Linked DNA regions of Homo sapiens: region 2 is linked to region 1. The links come from fine-mapping of genetic effects on gene expression. A gene starts in region 1. The other region holds a variant in brackets. All regions are shown on one strand. Distances are from middle to middle.

Region 1 (9,817 bases):
ATCTCCTTAAAGAAAATCTACCAAAACACAGGCTTCATGCAGCTGTTATGTAAATGGGCCCTGCCGCAGAGAGAAGAAAGCAGGCATCCATAAACCACCAGGTACAAGTTCACTGTCATTCCAACACAAGACAGCGCGCTCTGGGGAGGGACGAGAGACATGAGCTCACGTGAGCGCTGCAGCTCAAATTCAGGAATTTGTCCTGGGCACCCTGTAGGCAGGAACCCAAGACAAGGGACCAATCCTTGATTTTCAGCCCAAGTGCCTTTTCTCATCCCTCGAGAGCTGCAAATTTAGATGAAGGAGGACAACTTTCTATGGGGAGGTCTAAATTAGGCTGTCTATGACCAACCTTTAATTGAAACTAATGCAAACAAATGTCTATCTCACTCTGAGTTCCGTTTTTTGTTGTTGTTGTTTTTTTTTGGTTTTTTTTTTTGTTGTTTGTTTTCTTTGAGACTGAGTCTTGCTCTGCCGCCCAGGCTAGAGTCCAGTGGCGCAATCTCGGCTCACTGCAGGCTCCGCCTCCCGGGCTCACGCCGTTCTCCCGCCTCTGCCTCCCGAGCAGCTGGGACTACAGGCACCCACCACCACGCCCGGCTAATTTTTTGTATTTTTAGTAGAGACGGGGTTTCACCGTGTTAGCCAGGATGGTCTCGATCTCCTGACCTCGTGATCCACCCGCCTCGGCCTCCCAAAGTGCTGGGATTACAGGCGTGAGCCACCGCGCCTGGCTCTGAGTTCTGTTTCAATTAACATTGTGGTGGAAAGGCAGTTGGCAAGGAGAAGACTGTGATATTTTAAAAACAATAAGCTAAGGATTAGAGTTTTGTTTCGTTTTGTGTTTTTTAAATGGATACTGTAGTCTAAAGGAAAAAGTAGGAGAGAAAAGTTTTCTCCTAGCACTCTCAAAGCAGAATGTGGTGCCAGCTGCTCCACCGACTGTCTGAAGATGGGGTAATTGCCACTCTTCTCACCATAACTTCTTGCTTTCAGATCAGCGGCTGGCAGGTTTATCTGCTTCTGAGCAGCTTCAGAGCCACGTCAATGACACTGGCTACGTCAGCAAGAGCAATCGGAAGAGAGGAGGATGCCACTGCCAACAGCAGTGGGAGGGAAAATTTTAGCCTTAAAGATTCTGTCTATCTGCCTGATTCTAACTGGCATACATGACTGTCAGTGATTTCAGAAGGCCAGAAGAGGGTATATAGTTTTAGACTGCCTCCTTAAGGCTTGGGGTACAGTAGCATTTAGTTCACATGTGTTTAAGCTTCCAAAGCCCTTGTTTAGGTCTTGTTCCCTACTTAGGAGAGGGTGGGCTTCCAAATGTATCAGAGGACATAACCAAAATAAACACTACCACAAATAAGTGTCTAAAGCCACACCACACACACCTACAGTGGTTACTGCAGTAATTCTGGCTCATTTCACACTATCAATAGTTCTAGCTGCTTTCATTTTTGGCACTATTATAACAAACCTGACACTACAACCACTAACAATTTGATTAGGATCCTTGGCATAATGCTATTGTATGGTCTTTTTTTGTAAATAGGTTAAAAGCTTCTGCTCTCTGGGATGGCAATCCTTTAAAGTTCATGGTTACAAAGATATGATTCTATTCCATGGTCCAGTATGAGTCACCTTCTCATCCAGGACCATGTCGATGTGAGGAAGCATTATATATGACTAATACACTGCCAAAATGCTTTTAAAGGTGTTGTCTGGGGAGGAGAAAGAAAGCCTAAGGCAAAGGTAACTGAGTGAGTTCAAAGTGAAATAGCTTCCCTAACCCAGACATACCCAGAGGAGAGAAAAATCCCACTGCTAGCACAAGCCTGGTGTTCCCAACTACCCTAAAGTCAAAATTTTGTGCAGAGATCAAAAGCTTATGGCTATTGGATTCCAAAAAATCATTTTGTCGAATTCACAGATGAAGAAGGAGGATGCCAAGCTCAGAAAGCTGCAGTACTCCTCTTATGTTCTTAGGTATATTCTTAAGACTATATATAACATCTGGCGTAACGCTCAATGCCAGGCTCTAGCGGGAATGTAATTGAACATTGTATAATGAAAATTACCAATAACTTGTCAACAGCTATGTTCAAGTCACTCGATTTCCTGTGCTTCAGTTTCATCACCTATTTCCTTCCCAGTGAGCTAAAAACAAAGATGTTAAGGTGCCTCATAGGGTGAAGAAATGAGGAACACACCTTAAAAAATACATAAGGTGATAACTAGAAGGAAAAGAACCAATAACGCCACATTTGGAGTCACTGCCCCCATGGTTACCACCATCACTCGCTCTAAGCCATAACCGGTATGCAGTTCTCTGCAACAGGGGCTCTGAACCTGGGTCCTTGAACCCCACAGGCTGTCATGGGTGTACTTTAAAAGAGGTCTGCCAGCTCTGATCTCTAGGGCAGGAAGCCCAGGACACAAAACTTAAGAACCACTACTATAGTAAACCTTGGCTACAGGTGTACCAAAAACAAACAAAAACAAAAAACACTTACAATGCCAGATGGAGAGGAAAAGTCAGGGAAGATGGCTCAGAAGCCAAGAGAAAAGCATAAGGATCTCACAACAACTACCACCTTCCTAAGCCTCAACTCCCTGGGACATCTATTCAACACTGACCCTGTCTGAAGATAATTTTTTCAAGCAATAACGCCTAGAAGATCATTAATAATAAGGAGAAGAAATGACTGATCATGGAGGACACAAGGCAGAAAAAACCTGAGCTGCCACCCATCCACTACTAAAGACACCTGTCAGAGGGACAACCAAAGGATTTGATGGAGCTTTGAGGGGAGCAGGCAGCTTTATAACAATAGGGTTGTCATGAGTTGCAACTGTGGGGCCATCTTGTGTGCAGTGTGAGAGATGAGAATGGAGTCTGGGTCTGCAGGTCAGACGAAGGATGAAGAGATGAATACTCTAGCCTCTCAGTAGTACCAGCAGGGCGATAGGTACTTCCATACCCCCCCCAAATAAGACCCAAGTCCCAGCTTTGACAAAAGAACCATGTTTGGAAGAGAAACTGAAGTAAATTGGAAGGAAGCGCTTCAACAGGAGGAGAGTGGTTCAAAAGATGGACAAGAGGTAAGTTGTGATCTTCGAAGACCAGGTCATGGAGAAGGGGGCACCCTTAAAGGGAAGTGAGAGAGGGAAAGAAAGAATTTCATTCTAATTCCTGAGAGCAAGGCAGCGCATATAAAATTACCTAAGATTTACAGAGCGATTTGCCGTTTACAAAACATTATGACATTCACGATAACGTTTAATCCTTATCACCCTGAAACGCTGGTTACATTTTATTTTACACATGAGGAAACTGAGGCTGAGTAGGGCGGATTATGCGACTTGCTCAAGGTCACTTGGCTGAAGTCAGCGCTAGGATGCATCCCCAATGCCCCCACCCCTCCGGGTGGCCGTCCACCCTGAAAGTCTTTGTATTATCTCCTACAGGGCAAGGCTGGTGTGGCTGCAACAGACTTCGCCCCCTCACCCCCAAATCTGGGACGGAGCAGCGCCCTCAGGTGTCAAGGAGGGGACCTGAGTGACGCGGAGCCACTGACTGGGGTTTCCCTGTCCTGCGGGGCTCGCGGGAGCCAGGAGCAGAAGCCACAGCTCTCGAACACACGACAGGCAGTCAGTCAAGTCAGGCTCCAGCAGCAGTTGCCGGCGTGGGGCTTAACACGAGAGGGGCAGCGCTGGGTGAATTCCCCTCCGAGCGATCCCAGGGCTAGGACCAAGCGCCTGCGCCCGCTTCTCCGACCCGGCTCCCCACACTCCCCCCTGCCCCGCTGGCTCCTTCCCGGAGGTTCCCCTGTGCGTGGGGGCGCCCTGGAAGAGGAATGGGGCTGGGGTGGAGTATGGAGGTGTCAGAGGGCCGACCCCGGGGCGAGGGCTTCCAACGCCGATCTTATGGGTCAGGACAACCGCGAACAAACCCCGGCTGAAGTTTGGGCATCAAGGGTTTCAGACCAAGTAGCAAGTTGCCTGGAGAGCGAGCGGTCCTAGGTGGAGGGCCTGGGGCAGGGGTGGCGGTAGGGGAACAAGGGAGAGGCAGGAGATGGTGCCCCTTCCCACGCAGCCCCTCGCGGCCCCGCGGGTAGGTGGCCGGTCCGCCTCTGCAGCCCGCGGGTGCGGAGAAAGCGCCCGGCACCGGGCACCCGGCACCGCGGCGCAGCGCAGCCAGCCCCTCCTCGCCGCGCTCCGCGCTCCTCCCCACCTGCCCACGGCCTCGCCCCCGCCGCGGAGACTCACAGTCCTCAGAAACTGGATCTCGTCCTCGCCTCCTTCTCCCCCTTCGGCCATGGCTCCCGAGGCGTCGGCGGTGCCCCAGCCTCCGGCGCCTCTGCTTCCCCCGGCAGCCGCTCGGCGTGCGCTGACTGCTGCTGCGCTCTTTCTCCTCCTCCTTTTCGTCCTCGTCCTCCACCTCCTCCTCCAGCTCCTGGCTCAGCCTCAGCCTCAGCAGCGCCAAGCTAATCCCCGACCATATAGGGAGCTGGGCTAACACTCCACTGCACTGCAGAGCGCCAACGCCAACCAAGCAGTCCGCCCACCCCTCTCGCCTCTCGCCCCAGCCAAGTGCGCTGCGGCCGCCCGCTCCGTGGAGAGCGCAACGCTGGGCGCGTCGAGCTGGCGGGGGCGGTGCGGGGGCCCTGGGCTGGCGCGGTGGAGCCTCCCCCGCACCGCTGGGTACCGCACCGCACACTCAGCGGAGGCGCGCGCCCCGCGGCGACCGGAGGATGTCCCCTAAACTGCTCCAATTCACAAACAAAGGCCAGTTGCTTAGCTCCAGCGCGCCCAGACTGGGTACCAACCCTCTCGCTTTGCTCGCTTTGCCCGCTTTGCCCACTTTGCCTGTGTGTGTGTGTGTGTGTGTGTGTGTGTGTGTGTGTGTGTGACAGAGATAGAGAGAGAGAGAGAGGAAAGAGAGAGACAGAGACAGAGAGAGAGAGAGAGGAAAGAGAGAGACAGAGACAGAGAGACAGAGAGAGGAAAGAGAGAGAGACAGAGACAGAGAGAGAGAGAGAGAGAGAGAGAGAGATCTGGACTCGAATACCTTGCTAGGACCCGCGTGCATTGTTGGGCAAGGAGAAGACGGTGCAGTGAGGAGCGAGGGTGATTGTCCACTTACAACAAAGTTTGCAACTCCCTGGATAGTCCTTTCTACACCTTAAGAGAACCCCTTCCCCTCTTCAAAATTGGTAAGTACACTTTACCAAACCCCTGGATTGTCCAGGGTTGCTGTGACTTCTGTACCCCAGGGAGCTTCTGGGGGATCCTGTGCCACCCTCAATTTGGAAGTCAGGTGGCATCACAACCCTTCCTCTCTGCCCACCCCTAACCTTATTCTGCATTTAGAGTTCCAGCCCTGTGGACTCTAAAGGGAGTAGAGAGTAGTTACAGGAGGCTCCCTTCCAGGTCCTGGAAGGCTCCTACATCCCACCCAGCCTTAGGTCCTTTTCCATGGTTGGGGATTGCCAGATTGGTCCTTGCCTTGACTGACGGTGCAGGGTGCCCCCTTCTGTTTGATGGCCGAGAAGCTCCAAGGCAAGAGACTGTTCAAGGCAAAAGGCACCAGAGATGTAGATTTAGGAGGAAGTGCAACTGGGAAGGTGGTAATTCTGGGCTGATGATGGTGGAAGACACTGGAAACCCCAAGCCATTTCACAGCTTCATATACCGCCTCCTTGTGGACGACATCTATCTCTTGATGCTACCTTAAGATCTCTTTCCTGAGCTTCCGTCCCATATGTTCTGATGAACATCAGAAATGCAAAGAAAAATGTTTTTTTCTTGTATTGTACTCAAACTGCTACCTTCTAGGCTTCAGCTTGGGCCTTGTGCCTCTTCTGAAACCCGCCTAGAATAAGTCAAACCATCTGTACATTGTGGCCCTTCACCTCTTAGAAGGCATCTGCCATGCTTGCCTCTATGGCCCACCATCCACTCTTTTCTTCTCCTGGCTCAAGGTTCTTCTTAGCCCCAACTTTCCCTGTAGTATAGTTTCCAGAGCCTATGTCATCTTTGATGGCCATATGAGCATTCCAGGTGGTCTTCTTCCTGAATTGTTGTGCTCTCCGTCCTTGTTTTGGACAGTCTTTATGTGCAGCCTAATATTGGATTGGCTTCTGGAGAAACACTAATGACACTCACTGTGTTTGGAGTTAACTAGAATTTCTAGATTTACTTTTTTCCTCCCACGTGAACTGCAAAAGTCAGCTCTTCTCCATCTTGATCACATGCAAGTGCTTGAGTACCTGTGGGCACGGTGGCTCACGCCTATAATCTCAACACTTTGGGAGGCCAAGGCGGGTGGATCACCTGAGGTCGGCAGTTCGAGACCAGCCTGACCAACATGGAGAAACCCCATTTCTACTAAAAAAAAAAAAAAAATACAAAATTAGCCGGTCGTGGTGGTGCATGCCTGTAATCCCAGCTACTTGGGAGGCTGAGGCAGGAGAATCGCTTGAACCCGGGAGGTGAAGATTGCCGTGAGCCGAGATCATGCCATTGCACTCCAGCCTGGGCAACAAGAGCGAGACTCTGTCTCAAAAATATGTGTGTGTGTGTGTGTGTGTGTGGGTGGGTGTGTGTGTGTTCCTTCCAATTGTAATACCCAATCATGTATTGATGTCTCTATATGTGAACCTTTAAGGTATTTTTAAAGCTAGAGTATGCCAGGCAAGGTGCTAATTATTACTAACCTGTGATATGGCATACCTTCAGAATACTAATAGAGGCCCTCTTGGATTAACTTTCATACTTTTGATTATGCTTAATATGGCATACCTTCAGAATACTAATAGAGGCCCTGTTGGATTAACTTTCATACTTTTGATTATGCTTATTTAATGATCAAGAACTTACCTAAGTCAGAAAAATAATACCTATTGAGTACTATGCTTATTACCTGCGTGACAAAATAATCTGTACACCAAACCTCCATGACATGCAGTTTACTTATGTAACAAACCTACATATGTACCCTTGAACCTAAAATAAAAGTTATAATTAAAAAATAACCTACATAAATATATTATTTTGCAGCCCAAATTTCTTCTTGTTCATAGGGCTACTATAAATGCCTTTCTTACATACTTTACTGAAATACAGATATGTAATCTGGGACACCACCTCCCGCATCAGTCAAATAACCCTACCACAAAAGAAGTAAGAATGGAGTTCTGTAACACCATTGGTGCATCCACTTGGATTCCTGATGGTCTTTGTGTTCCTTTAGAGTTCCCAAAAGTAAGCTGTTTAATTATCAAAATCTAAGATTGTTCTGGAGCTCAGCGTATAAAAGAGTCTCAGGCTGTTGTTTCAGACTGTAAACTGGGGAAGGTGGACATTTACTTCTATTTGAAATCTATTGGTACTTCTTCCATTCTCTAAGATTTCCCAAAGATGCACCAATAATGATGCTGTAGTCATACAGGTACAGATAAATAGTAGTTCAGACACTGTGCTTTGATACTTGTTTTGCTATTAGTTCACCCATTAAGACCGGGAGAGAATAAACTAATAGTAAGTTACTTGTCTAAATTCATACATCTAGTAAAAGGAGTCACACAATCTCCTCTTACTTGGAGTAAAACAATCTCAATACTTTTCAGTACTTTCTCCACTATAGTGCCTTGCTTCTAGAACAGCAAAGTGGAAAACATCAGGTTCATACACCACCTCCATGCCCCCATACCCCATACACATTGGGTTTGCTTCCACACAGCCTATATTTTAAACTGAGTCTCTCTCAAGACCAGTTACTCTTAGTAGAGAGCCGGAGGACTTGGACCTTAGGTCTTAGAGGGTACTGTAGCTACTACATTTTGAAAGAAAAACCCAAAGCCTCCCAGGTTTCTAAACCTCTGGAGAAAGCTATCAGCCATTATTATGACTTCAATTAGGTGCACACAACAGGGAAATCAAATACCTTTGGGATACTGGCATGGTTCAAAGTCAGACCTCAAAGCCTGCTGTATTTGAATGTTGGGGCACTCTGCAGCCAATATCAACAGCAGGTGGAGAGCCTGTAGTGGGGGCCAAATCAGAAATTTTTCATTTTTATCATTATAGCACTTTTATACCTTTTACATATACAATTTTAAAGGCCTGACATTGAAATATTGTTATTCAATATTGACTATTGAAATAAAATTCATGTATTTATTTTCTCCTCTGGAGGTTCTCAAAGTATTGGTCCTAAGGATTTTCTCACATAAGAGGGCCTCTTATTTGTGTTTTAACAGTAATATTGCTATAGTTTTAAAATGCTAATGAAAATGTCCACACTCATATAAGTCAGTATCTCATTTGCTATGTTGTATTATTCATGGTAGCCAGTTGCCCAAGTGGTCTCAATGAGGCCAAGGATATGGATTCAGTTCTAGGAGGGCCAGTTAGCTTCACTCCATTTGCTGTCCAAAGACTCTGGCCCCTTCATTCTGGTTAAAAGTCTCATACATCTTTGTTCATTTAGCCATAGGGGAGGCAGGCTTAAGCTTTAACAAGCTAGGACTTCCCATGCTTGGAGACACAGAAGCTAAGAGGTCACACTTGATAAAGATAGCCTTCACCCATGTTACTAGCAATATATTAAATTCTACACAACACTAAATCTTTCTCCAATATCCATTTCAGCCTCACTTCCTAACTATAGCAGCCATCCATTTGCTGAAAATGCATTTCTTCCATTAATTGCGCTCATGGCTTTGGTCTGCATTGACTCAGGATTTGCCTAAGGAACATATAAAAGGGAATGATGCAAAGAACTGTAGAGTTGAGGGAACTGACTCTGCTAGCTACCATCTTTTAAAATATCTCACCATATACACAAGTACTATTATATACTGACTGAAGATTTATTTGTTTTTCATTAGCAAAAAGAAAAAAAAACACTTTTCTCTGCTTTTTGTTCAGGTGTTCCAAGGCAAGAAGTTATTTTCACCAGGGAAGCCTGTGAACAGAAAGAGCTCCTGAGACTACACCTGCTTTTAATTTGGTGTCAGTAGGAACGATGGTATACACATTTTACAAAAGTCATTTTTTAATGTTAAGAAAAAATTATCAATTGTTTCCAAGATCTTTATAATAAGCTACTAAATTGGTATACTAATATAGCTTTGTCCTAAAACTTGGAAGCCATACCAAAAATCCTTGATTCAGATTCCTTTCTAAAATAGACAGGAAACAGGTACAAAAAAAAATCTTTCTTTTTCTGATGATATGTGCATTATCTTGTTTATAAAAGCCACGGACATCGCAACTGCTTAACACAGGCAAGGATCCACTTACTGATACCTTCCTGAAGCTGAACACATGGAAATGTCGTCGTTGCCACTGCCTCCTCCTTCTCCGCCTCTTCCTCTTCTTCTTCCTCCTTTCTTTTTCCTCTTTTTCTCCTTCCTCTACTCCTTCTTTTTCACCTTCTCCTTCTTTTTCCTTTTGATGTTTTAAGATTGGAGGATTACATTATAAGGCAAAAGTTAATATGCCATTCTGGCGAAAGGCTCCGGAAACTAAATAAAGAGGGGGCTTTCTCCCAGCGGGGCTGGGGCAGCCTCTGAGGCACAGCAGAGATAGAGGCAAGCTGAGCACACTTGCAGAAGCCTAGGAGGCAGATCTTTTGCAAGGTGCCGTCCATTGAACTAATTCATCTTCAAGGAGTCTCCAGTTGGAAAGGGTTGTTAAAGCAATAGATTAAGCCACCAGCATTATAGTAGTTTATTTGCATTTCCCTGCAGGTCAGCCTCTGTTTAACAGTAAATTTATACTGTAATCATTGTGTATTAGACATTAG
Region 2 (9,817 bases), 69 kb after region 1:
GTTCTTCATCAGAATAATGATGGGATTTTCAAAGATCTCTAGTGTCTCAAACAGCTAATCAGTCTGGCAGGAAAAAGATTCATCACCCTTTTGGCCTCTACTCAGCCCATGTCCCTGCCTGACTAGGTTAGAAGATAGCAAAAGGAGAAGCCTTTCCCTTGCAGGTCTCTAAATGCTTTAGAGGTATCACTTGGATTCTGCATACTTCATCTAAGATATTTTAAAACAAGTGTGTTAAAGTATTCATAGAAAAAATATTTTTTTTGCTTCATGAAAGCTTTGTTTCAGTGGGTTCCATTTATAGTATTTAAAATTAAAATGTGGCTCCACTCCAGGAATTTACTTTATGCAAAATAGTGTAGAAATCAATTTATCATGGAAAACAAAATAAGGCTGGTTAAGCTTATTAACAACAGAAGATAAGAGAATGAGTGAAACTATAGGGGAACGTCTTCTTAGGGCTCCTATGTTTTCCTGTCCTGAGGTTGGTGATAAAGATGATTTTCTGTAGGTAGCAGACGATATAATTACCAGCATTAGAAGCTGTAAAACAGAACCTTGACTGCCTGAATTCAGACCTTGAAAAGGACCTGCAGAAACTGGATATGGAGAATCAGGTTCTCCTTAGAAAGATTAAAGAGAAAGAAGAAACTATTTCAAGGTAAGGCTTTGTGGTTGGTGGGGGAAGGGCCTCCCCGCCCCTGCAGGTCCTTTGGGATACAGGTGGAAGAAAGTTTCACTTATTTGATGGTGAATCTTGACGTTTTATTTAAATCCTAAAGTATGAACTACAGTGCCCTCAAAATACTTCAGGTATAGATTTTTGCATTAAATTTTCACATTAGGTTGACATTTTATCGCCATTGCATTTGGTAGTTACTCTGACTTCCTGAGACTTCGAAAGTAGCTTCTCAAATTGGGGCCCTGGCAGCTTTCTTAGGGGCTGAGCCACACCTGGGTGACTTTATATTTCTCAGCCTGGAAAGAAAGCTGGCCTTGTCACTAGAAGAAGCCAAAGAGGAGGAGGAGTTGAACTATGTCATAGATGAACAGGAGGAATCCCTGAGGGAGCTGGAATTAGAGACAGCAAAGCTGGTAAGGAGGTGTCTAGAAAAGGACCATTGGATGCATTTTGTTTGCATTCTGCTGCTCTCCTTCCCAGGAATTCATCCCATGTTCATTGCTTCTGTGTCTCAAATCATGGCTGTTTAAGAGAGTGTTCTGGGAATGAAGCACTGGGCATGGGGGCCGAAGAGGCTTTTTTCCCAGATCTGCTGTGTGAGCCAGAGTGCACTTTTCCGACTTGATAGACTAATCCCCAGATATTATTCCAGTGGCCTGATGAAGGGGGAGAGATGACGGCAGAGCAACTTTCTTCCCTTGACTTTCTTTTTCCCCACAGGAGAAAAGTAACGCAATCCTAAGCAGGAATGTGGTGGAGGTTCAGAAAAAGGTAAGGGGAGCCCTGGGTTTTTTAGGGTCCCCGAGTCCCTAAGAACATTGTGTCTTCACAAGAGAAAGGCTGGTGGGCTGGGCTGGGAGTATGCAGGAGGGGTCCTAGGCACATTCAGAATGAGAAAAGATATACATAAACGTTAACGGAAAGGCTGTTCTCCACATAGCAAAGCATGCCCTGGAAACAAGCCTCGTTTCTTAGGAATCTTATCAATAAGAGTTATCTTCCAGAACTCTGTAATCACAGAGACTGGAGAAGAAGGAGCAACTGGCAAAGTTTGCATGCTCCCTCTGCACTGCTGCTGCCAATTGTTCTCTGGGCATTACAGATTGTGGTGAGAGGGCTAAAGGGCTTTAGAGGGGGAAAAGACTTATCCCTCCTCCCACTCTGCCCCATTCTCTCTTCCCTTTCTCATTGTCCTCCCCTCCTCACTGTGCACTTTCTTCCATGGGCTGTGGGAACAGAAAAGTCTGTCTAGCCCACATGGAGTCAGGCAGCCTCCACAGAGAGAAGGAGATGCTTTTCTTCCAAGCTTCTATCCAGGGCCCGAATTAGTAACCACCATCTGCAGCCTGGGACCCCAGTCTGCCACTGGCCCAGGTTTTCATGTCTGTGTGCCTTACTTAGTTCATGATTTTTTGAATGGTATTTTAGATTTCAGGGTTATTTACAAATATTGGCCTTGAAGAAGAAACCACAAAGCAGATCCTGGAGGAAATGAAGGTGAGTAGAAAAAACAAACAGATTTTTCTGGGAGATGTGTCAATTCTAGGTCCTGTGAGAAATTGCTCTCAAGGACTACCCTAGGGTATGTACTGGTTATGTCTGTGTACTTATCAGAGATGAGTCACTGTCCTTTATTCTCTGCATGTAATCCCATGGCCTGTGGGGGCATTTATGACATCACTAGTCACACTAGGAGCAGAGATGACTGCAGTGGATCAAAGTGGAGGGAACTGCTCCAGAGTCCCCATCTTCCATCAGTCGATAAAACACATGTTCTGAATGCCCATTGGGACCTGCCCTCCAGAAGCTTATTATTTAAGTGAGGACACACAAATAAGATATTCAATAGGAAGAAAATATTGACTCCCATAGTCATACAGGGATGTGTCATGATCTTCTGATTTCCAACCCATGGCTCAAAGGCCAAAGAAGTTTTTTTAAAATTTATTTTGTTATCTTTTTCCTCTGCTAGAAGATAAACTCATTGAGAACATGAATTGTTGCCTATGTTGTTCATTTGTTTCCCCAGGGCCTAGAACTATGTGCCTGGCACATAGTAGATGCCCAATAAATATATATTGAATGAATGACTACACTGGACACCCAATAGTGGGGAAAACCCCTATTAGGAAGCTCTCTGCATACTTATGTGGTGAGTGTGGCAATTTAACTGAGCCCACTATACAAGAGCTCCACTGTCTTATGTATTTCTCAGAAAAAGAGAAACCAGGTTTCTCTCTCTCTTTTTTTTTTTTTTTTTTTTTTGAGATGGAGTCTCTCTCCATCACCCAGGCTGGAGTGCAGTGGTAAGATCTCGGCTCACTGCAACCTCTGCTTCCCGGGAGTTAAAGCAGTTCTCCTGCCTCAGCCTCCTGAGTAGCTGGGACTACAGGCACACGCCACGATACCTGGCTAATTTTTGTATTTTCAGTAGAGATGGGGTTTTACCACATTGGCCAGAGTTCACCATGTTGGCCAGGGTGGTCTTGAATTCCTGACCTCAAGCAATCTGCCTGCCTTGGTCTCCCAAAGTGCTGGGATTACAGGCGTGAGTCACTACGCCTGGCCCAGGTTTCTCTTTTATTTTCTGTGTGATTCAGGGGACATGCCAGTGCACCCTATGAAATATGAGTGGGAGGAAGAGGCTTGTGAGCTTTGGTCAGTAGGCCTGGAGGAAGGAGGATGGCTGGGTTCACTGAATGGGCACTGGCCTACTGAGGCGTAAATGTCAGCTCTGCCACTTTAAACTTTAACAAGTTACATACTCAACTTCTCTGCGCCTTTGTTTCCTCATTTGTAAAATGGAGAGGGGAGGGGGTAATAACAAGTGCCCACCCTAAATTGTTATCAGATGTCTTCAACATGATAGCCATTAGTGTCATGCCCTCTGCTGGTCTGGATATGGTAATTACCCACTTCCCTTCCATAAAAGAATGCTAGTAACTTTCTGCCGTCACTCATTGTCTTCCACAGGCAAGACTACAGAAGTCAACAGAGTCCTGTGCAAAGCAAGAGGAGGAACTGGCCAAGGCAGAGGCAATGTCTCTTCCACTGAGGGTCTGCCCGGGATAGAATGGGAGAGAATCCCAAGGGTCTTAGAAACAGATCTGCTTGAGGCATAGGAGGGGGAGGTACAAAAACATCTTGCAAATGAATTTCTGATTCTTATGCATTCTTATGCAGCTGAAGGGAAAGAAAACTTCTATTAAAAATACTGCTTTTACCATTTCTTACATCTCTGTGTCAAATACCATTGTTGAATTCCAAACCAAAGTGCCTTGACACGTCCCCTGGTATTTCACATGAGAGGCAGATGACAACTTGGGCAAAATATTTCCTTTGCTTAAAACCAGACCCTGTGCCTAATGATGAGATCACCTCTTTGTGATGTGACTGTTTTTCCTTCAAGTCAGGAGTTGCTAGGTAACCAGCCAAGTGCCAGTGCACCAGGTAGGGCCCCAGGGAGGAGACTGGGCTTGGTTCTGATTTAACTCATGAGGTTTGTTAATTTTCTTTCTTTTTAGATAGAGAGTGACTACCAATCTGTGTCTGACCTCTGTAAGGACCAGGTCTACTACATAAAGGTGCAACCCATGTGGAGGAAAAGTCCGAGTAGAGGCAGAATATCTCCAAGGCCATGGGTTCCTTGGTTTTTCATTAGGCTAGAATGTGTCACTAGGGAAAATGCTCTGTATACAACAGCAACAAGAAGACGGATGTATGTTAAGGATTTACTTTGTGCCAAGTACTGTGCTAAGCACTCAGCCTATAGTATTTTTCTCAATCAATTTGTTCAATAATTCTATGAGCGTGACAGTTATGATCAAGGGGACAATGAGGTTTCAGGAAGTTAGAATGCAGCTAGTAACAGGGAACACAGCTAGTAAACGTCAGAGCTGGGATTTGAATACAAGCAGGGACCTGAATGGGAGGGAGCTCTTTTTGTTCATACACATC[C/G]ATTCCGGTCACTAATATCTTTGAATTTTTTATTAGAACCCCTCCCCCACTGGTGTGTGCATACTGATGAGTATATTGTTTGGAAAATAATTAGCAGAATGTTTTTATCAATGACATCATGATGAGATATGGAAATTTTCCATTTATGACTTTGTTTATTTTTTAACTTCATGGAAAGAAATACCAGGAAGTTCTGAGGAAGATGAAAGAGGAAAAGGAGACGCTGCTTCTTGAAAAACAAATGTAAGCTTAGAAAAATGGCCTCCCTGACAGACTGCAGTAGCAGTCCGGCAGTCCAGGCGGCCTTTGAAGGGCGGGGTGCTTCTCAGCACAGTGTGTGTCACTGTGTAAATGGCCTCCAACAAGTCATCTCTTTCAGCCTCCGCTCCATGGTTCAGACTGGAAAACCAACAGCATTCAGGCTTTCCTCTTGCCTTCCTCAGCAACTGGTGTTTTAAAAGCCTCTTTTTGGCCAGGCGCGGTGGCTCATGCCTATAATCCCAGCACTTTGAGAGGCCGAGGCGGGTGGATCACCTGAGGTCAGGAGATCGAGACCATCCTGGCCAACATGGTGAAACCCCGTCTCTACTAAAAAAAAACAAAAATGAGCAAGGCATGGTGGCGGCCGCCTGTAATCCTAGCTACTTGGGAGGCTGAGGCATGAGAATCCCTTGAACCCAGGAGGTGGAAGTTGCAGTGAGCCAAGATCAGGCCACTGCACTCCAGCCTAGGCAACAGAGTGAGATTTTGTCTCAAAAAAAAAAAATCTCTTTTTAATGTTCTTCTCTTTGTTGTTGTTATTGTTGTTGTTTGTTTGAGACAGAGTTTCACTCTTGTCGCCCAGGCTGGAGTAGAATGGTCTGATCTCAGTTAACTGCAACCTCCACCTCCCAGGTTCAAGCGATCCTCCTGCCTCAGCCTCCCAAGTAGCTGGGATTACAGGCATGTGCCACTGCGCCCAGCTAATTTTTGTATTTTTAGTAGAGACAGGTTTTCACCATGTTAGCCAGGCTGGTCTCGAACTCCTGATCTCAGGTGATCCACCCGCCTCAGACTCCCAAAGTGCTGGGATTACAGGCGTGAGCCACCGTGCCCGGCCCTAATGTTCTTTTCACATGTCCTCAGAGGCATGCAGTTCCTGAAAATTATCTGGAGCTATGTTCAGAGAGGAAGAAACGTAGTAAAAAGAGGACTAGGGGCCCAGAAATATTCCTTTATGTGTGTGTGCTGTCCCCTTTCCCAGGATGCAGTGGGTCCACCAGACTGACCAGAGGCCCCAGTGATGCCCTTTTATACTTTCTTTCCATAGACTGTATGTCTCAGGACTTGTCACACTTTCCTTTTGATTATTTATACTTTTCAATTGCATTATATAATGTACATAGAGTGCACAAATTTTATATAGCTTGGTGAATTTTTATACATGATAACACCACTGAGATCAAGCTGTGGAACATTCTGAGTTCCCGAAAACCTCCCTGTCCCCTCCTCCCAGTCAATACTCCTGGAAAAGTAACCATTAGCCTGACTTGCATCTCTTTCTTTTTAAAGCATTCTTGAACTTTATATAAATTTAGTATGTTCTTGATTGTGTCTGGCTTTCACTAAGACTCACTCGCATTGCTGCATGATTTGTTCTTTTTCATGGCTGTTATATTCTATTATAGAAATATGGCACAATTTATCTATGCTACTCTTAAGGAACATGTTGCTTATTTCCAGTTTGGAAATTTATAATAAAGCTGCTACAAGTATTCTTGTGCATGTCTTTTGATGGATGTATCCTCTCATTTTTCTTGGGTTAGATACCAAGGAATAGAATTTCTAGGTCACAGAGTATATACATCTTTGGTTTACTAGATAAGCTGAACAATTTTCCAAAGTGCCTGTACCAATATCCCCTCCCATAAAAAATGTACAAGAGTTCTAGCTATTCCTCATCCTTACTTTCACTCAGTATTTATAGCCTTTATGATTTTAGCTATTCTGGCAGAAGGGTGTAGTGATGTATACAATTTTGATTTAAAAAACATTTTATTACTCAATAATGATATTTTATGTGCATTTTATTGCTGATTAATAATGATGTCTTACAGCTTTTCACACAGTTTGGAAATTTGAATGTCCTCTTTTGTGACATGTCTTTCGCCTGCATCTGTGAGATGGTTAGTCTTTTTCTAATTGATTTGTAGGAGTTCCTTATTTTTTTCATAAGATCCTTTGTCAAATGTGTGTATTATAGTCTATTCTGAGGCTTTCCTTTTTTACTTTCTTAATGACATTTTGGATAAACAATAGTTATTAATTTAGAAAAAAATCTAATCTGTGAAATGTGTCAATCCATTCTTTTTTGCTTTCTGCCTTTTAGAGGTCATAAAACTACTCTCTGTGGTTTCCCCTAGAATTTTTTATCATTTACCTTTTACTCAGGTTTACATTCTTTTGGAATTTATTTTCTTTTCTGTGGTGTGAGGTAGAGATTAAAATTTGTGGGGTTTTTTTTCCATATGGATATCCAATTGATCCAGCACAATTTATTGAAGATACTATTCATTTGCAGTGGTGTCTTATTTTATGTCTGGTGACCATATATGTGTGAGTGTTTCTGGATGCTTTATTCTGTACAATTAGTCTCTGTTCCTATCCTTGTGCCAAAACTACACTAATTATTATAGCTTTATAATTAGTATTGATATGGTAGCTTAAATTCTGCACGATTATCTTGGCTTTCTTGGCCCCTTGAATTTCTATATAAATTTTAAAATCGGTTTTTCAACTTCTACCAAAACAAAAACAAAAAACCTTGCTGAGATGTTGATTGGAGTTACATGGAATCTATAGATAAAGTGAGAGGATAATTAGTATCTAAACAATAATTTTCCATGGCCAGGTGCTGTGGCTCATGCCTGTAATGTCAGTGTTTTGGGAGACTGTGGGGCGGGGGAGGTTCTATTGAGGCCAGGAGATCGAGACTAGCCTGGGCAACATAGCAAGACTCTATCTCTACAAAAAATAAAACAAATTATCTGGGCATGGTTGTGTGTGCCTATAGTCCTAGCTACTCAGGAGGCTGAGGCAGGAGGATGGTTTGAGCCCAGGAGGTTGAGGTAAAAGTGAGATATATTGCACCACTGTATTCCAGCCTGGACCACCGAGTGAGATGCTATCTCAAAAAGAATAATAAAAATAAACAATAGTTTCACACACCATGATATCTTTATCCCTTCGTTTATTTAGATATTTAATTTCTCAAAATAACGTTTTACAGTTTTCTGTGTGGTGTTCTTATACACTTTCCATCAGATTTATTCCTAGGTATTTAATATTTTTAATGCAACTGTGAATGCTGTGTTAATTTGATTTTCTTTTTTTATTAATATTAAAAATAAAATAGAGACGGTGGCCAGGTGTGGTGGCTCATGCCTGGAATCCCAGCACTTTGGGAAGCTGAGGCAGGTGGATTACCTGAGGTCAGGAGTTCGAGACCAGCCTGACTAACATGGTGAAACTCTGTCTCTACTAAAAATAAAAAAATAAAAAAAATAAAAAAGCCAGGTGTGGTGGCACATGCCTGTAGTCCCAGCTACTTGGGAGGCTGAGGCAGGAGAATTGCTTGAACCCGGGAGGAGGAGGTTATGCCACTGTACTCCAGCCTGGGTGACAGAGCGAAACTCCATCTCAAAAAATAAAAATAAAATAATAAAATAAAATAGAGACAGGGTCCCACTATGTTGCCCAGGCTGGTCTCAAACTCCTGGGCTTAAGCGATCCTCCCACCTTGGCCTCCCAAAGTGCTAGGATTGCAGGTGTGAGCCAACATGCCAGCCTTGATTTTTTAATTGATTACTGTTAGTGCATAGAAATACAATTGGTTTCTATATATTGAACTTGTATCATTAATCTCACTAAATTCACCTATTCTAAAAATTTCTTTTAGCTTCTCAACTATAAATAATAACAATTGTACTTTTTCCTTTTCAGTCTTTATCTTTTTATTTCTTTTTCTTGCTTTATTGAATTATTTGCAAGCATTTGCAGGCATTATTTGCTGGTATTATTTACAGGCATTTCCATTAATGGACTCAATCCTATTGCATAAAATGAAACTTAGGATAACAAAACAAAATAAAACAAATGAACAAACAATGAACAGAAGGTATTGGCGAGTGAATAAAAGCAAGCAGATTCTGGAAGGGATCTGGCACTTGGAAAAAGAGAATGATGGGCATTATTTCCCCTATTTTTATAGTTTCTAGCCTGAAGAAAGACCAAACTGGGTGTGTAAGATGCACCAGCAGAGAAAACCTATAGTCTTTTTGGACTAACAAAATAGAGAATAAAGAGTTTGAGGCAGCCAAAGATACTGGGGAAAAAGTAGAGAGTCAGACATGGGGAGTTCCTAAATCTGTGTCTAAACTATACCTGAATCTCTGACTGGACTTCCAAACCATGCATGCTCAGGGCAATGTGTGAGCAGCCCAGCTGAGGACATAAGACCACAACTGAAACTTGAGCTGCCACCAAGACACAAACTGCAGTTTGAATCCAACATCAGGGTTATATCCAGCTTAGTTTTCATTGATTGTCTTCTTTTAAAAATGAATCACATTTTCCTGGTTCTTTATAAGTTTAGCAATTATGGATTTTAAATGTTGAGCATTGTGAATGTTAGTAAGAGTCTAGGATATGAATCGTAGATACCGCGTAACTTAGGAAAGCACCTTTCATCAGCCTCTCAGATTATGTTACCTAATTCTTGGCTCTGATCTCTTACCTAGATCCAAAGCCCAGGATGACTCCTCTCAAACAGTGAAACCGGGATCAATTTTGGCAGACACCACCCAAAGAAACATGGCCAGTTTTTCCTATTCCAAACCTGGGTTTTCCTCTATCCCTTCCCTCTCCTAGCTTCTCTCTCTCTCTCTCTCTCTCTCTCTCTCTCTCTCTCTCTCTCTCTCTCCCTCCTCTTTAATAATCCTATAATTAGGAAATAATGAGGTTTAGTTCCTACCCCACACCATGGAAGCTAGGAGGTGGCAGAGCCAGAATTCAAACCCAGGCATCCTGACTCCAGGGTCTCTGCTATTCTGCCTCTCTGTGAACACACGAAAAGCCATAGCTGTGATTTTTCATTGCTTCCCACAGGAGAGGACCACCATTAAGAAACAGGAGAGAAGG

Evidence for each region.
Region 2: its variant is fine-mapped to the expression of RYR3-DT in putamen (GTEx, PIP 0.99).

What each region holds. Positions count from the first base shown.
Region 1 is chr15:33,305,552-33,315,368 of GRCh38, reverse strand. It overlaps RYR3-DT (RYR3 divergent transcript), which reads left to right and starts at 4,710. Exons shown (of 3, transcript NR_120327.1): 1 at 4,710-4,791; 2 at 8,938-9,037. RYR3 (ryanodine receptor 3) reads right to left here and starts at 4,402. Exons shown (of 104, transcript NM_001036.6): 1 at 4,273-4,402. The coding sequence starts at 4,323. RefSeq lists enhancers at 3,160-3,669, 3,670-4,181.
Region 2 is chr15:33,236,599-33,246,415 of GRCh38, reverse strand. It overlaps the pseudogene TMCO5B. Among named protein-coding and RNA genes, the nearest start is that of FMN1, 47 kb to the right of the region's middle. RefSeq lists a silencer at 8,022-8,191. The variant C/G (reference allele first, on the strand shown) is at 4,640.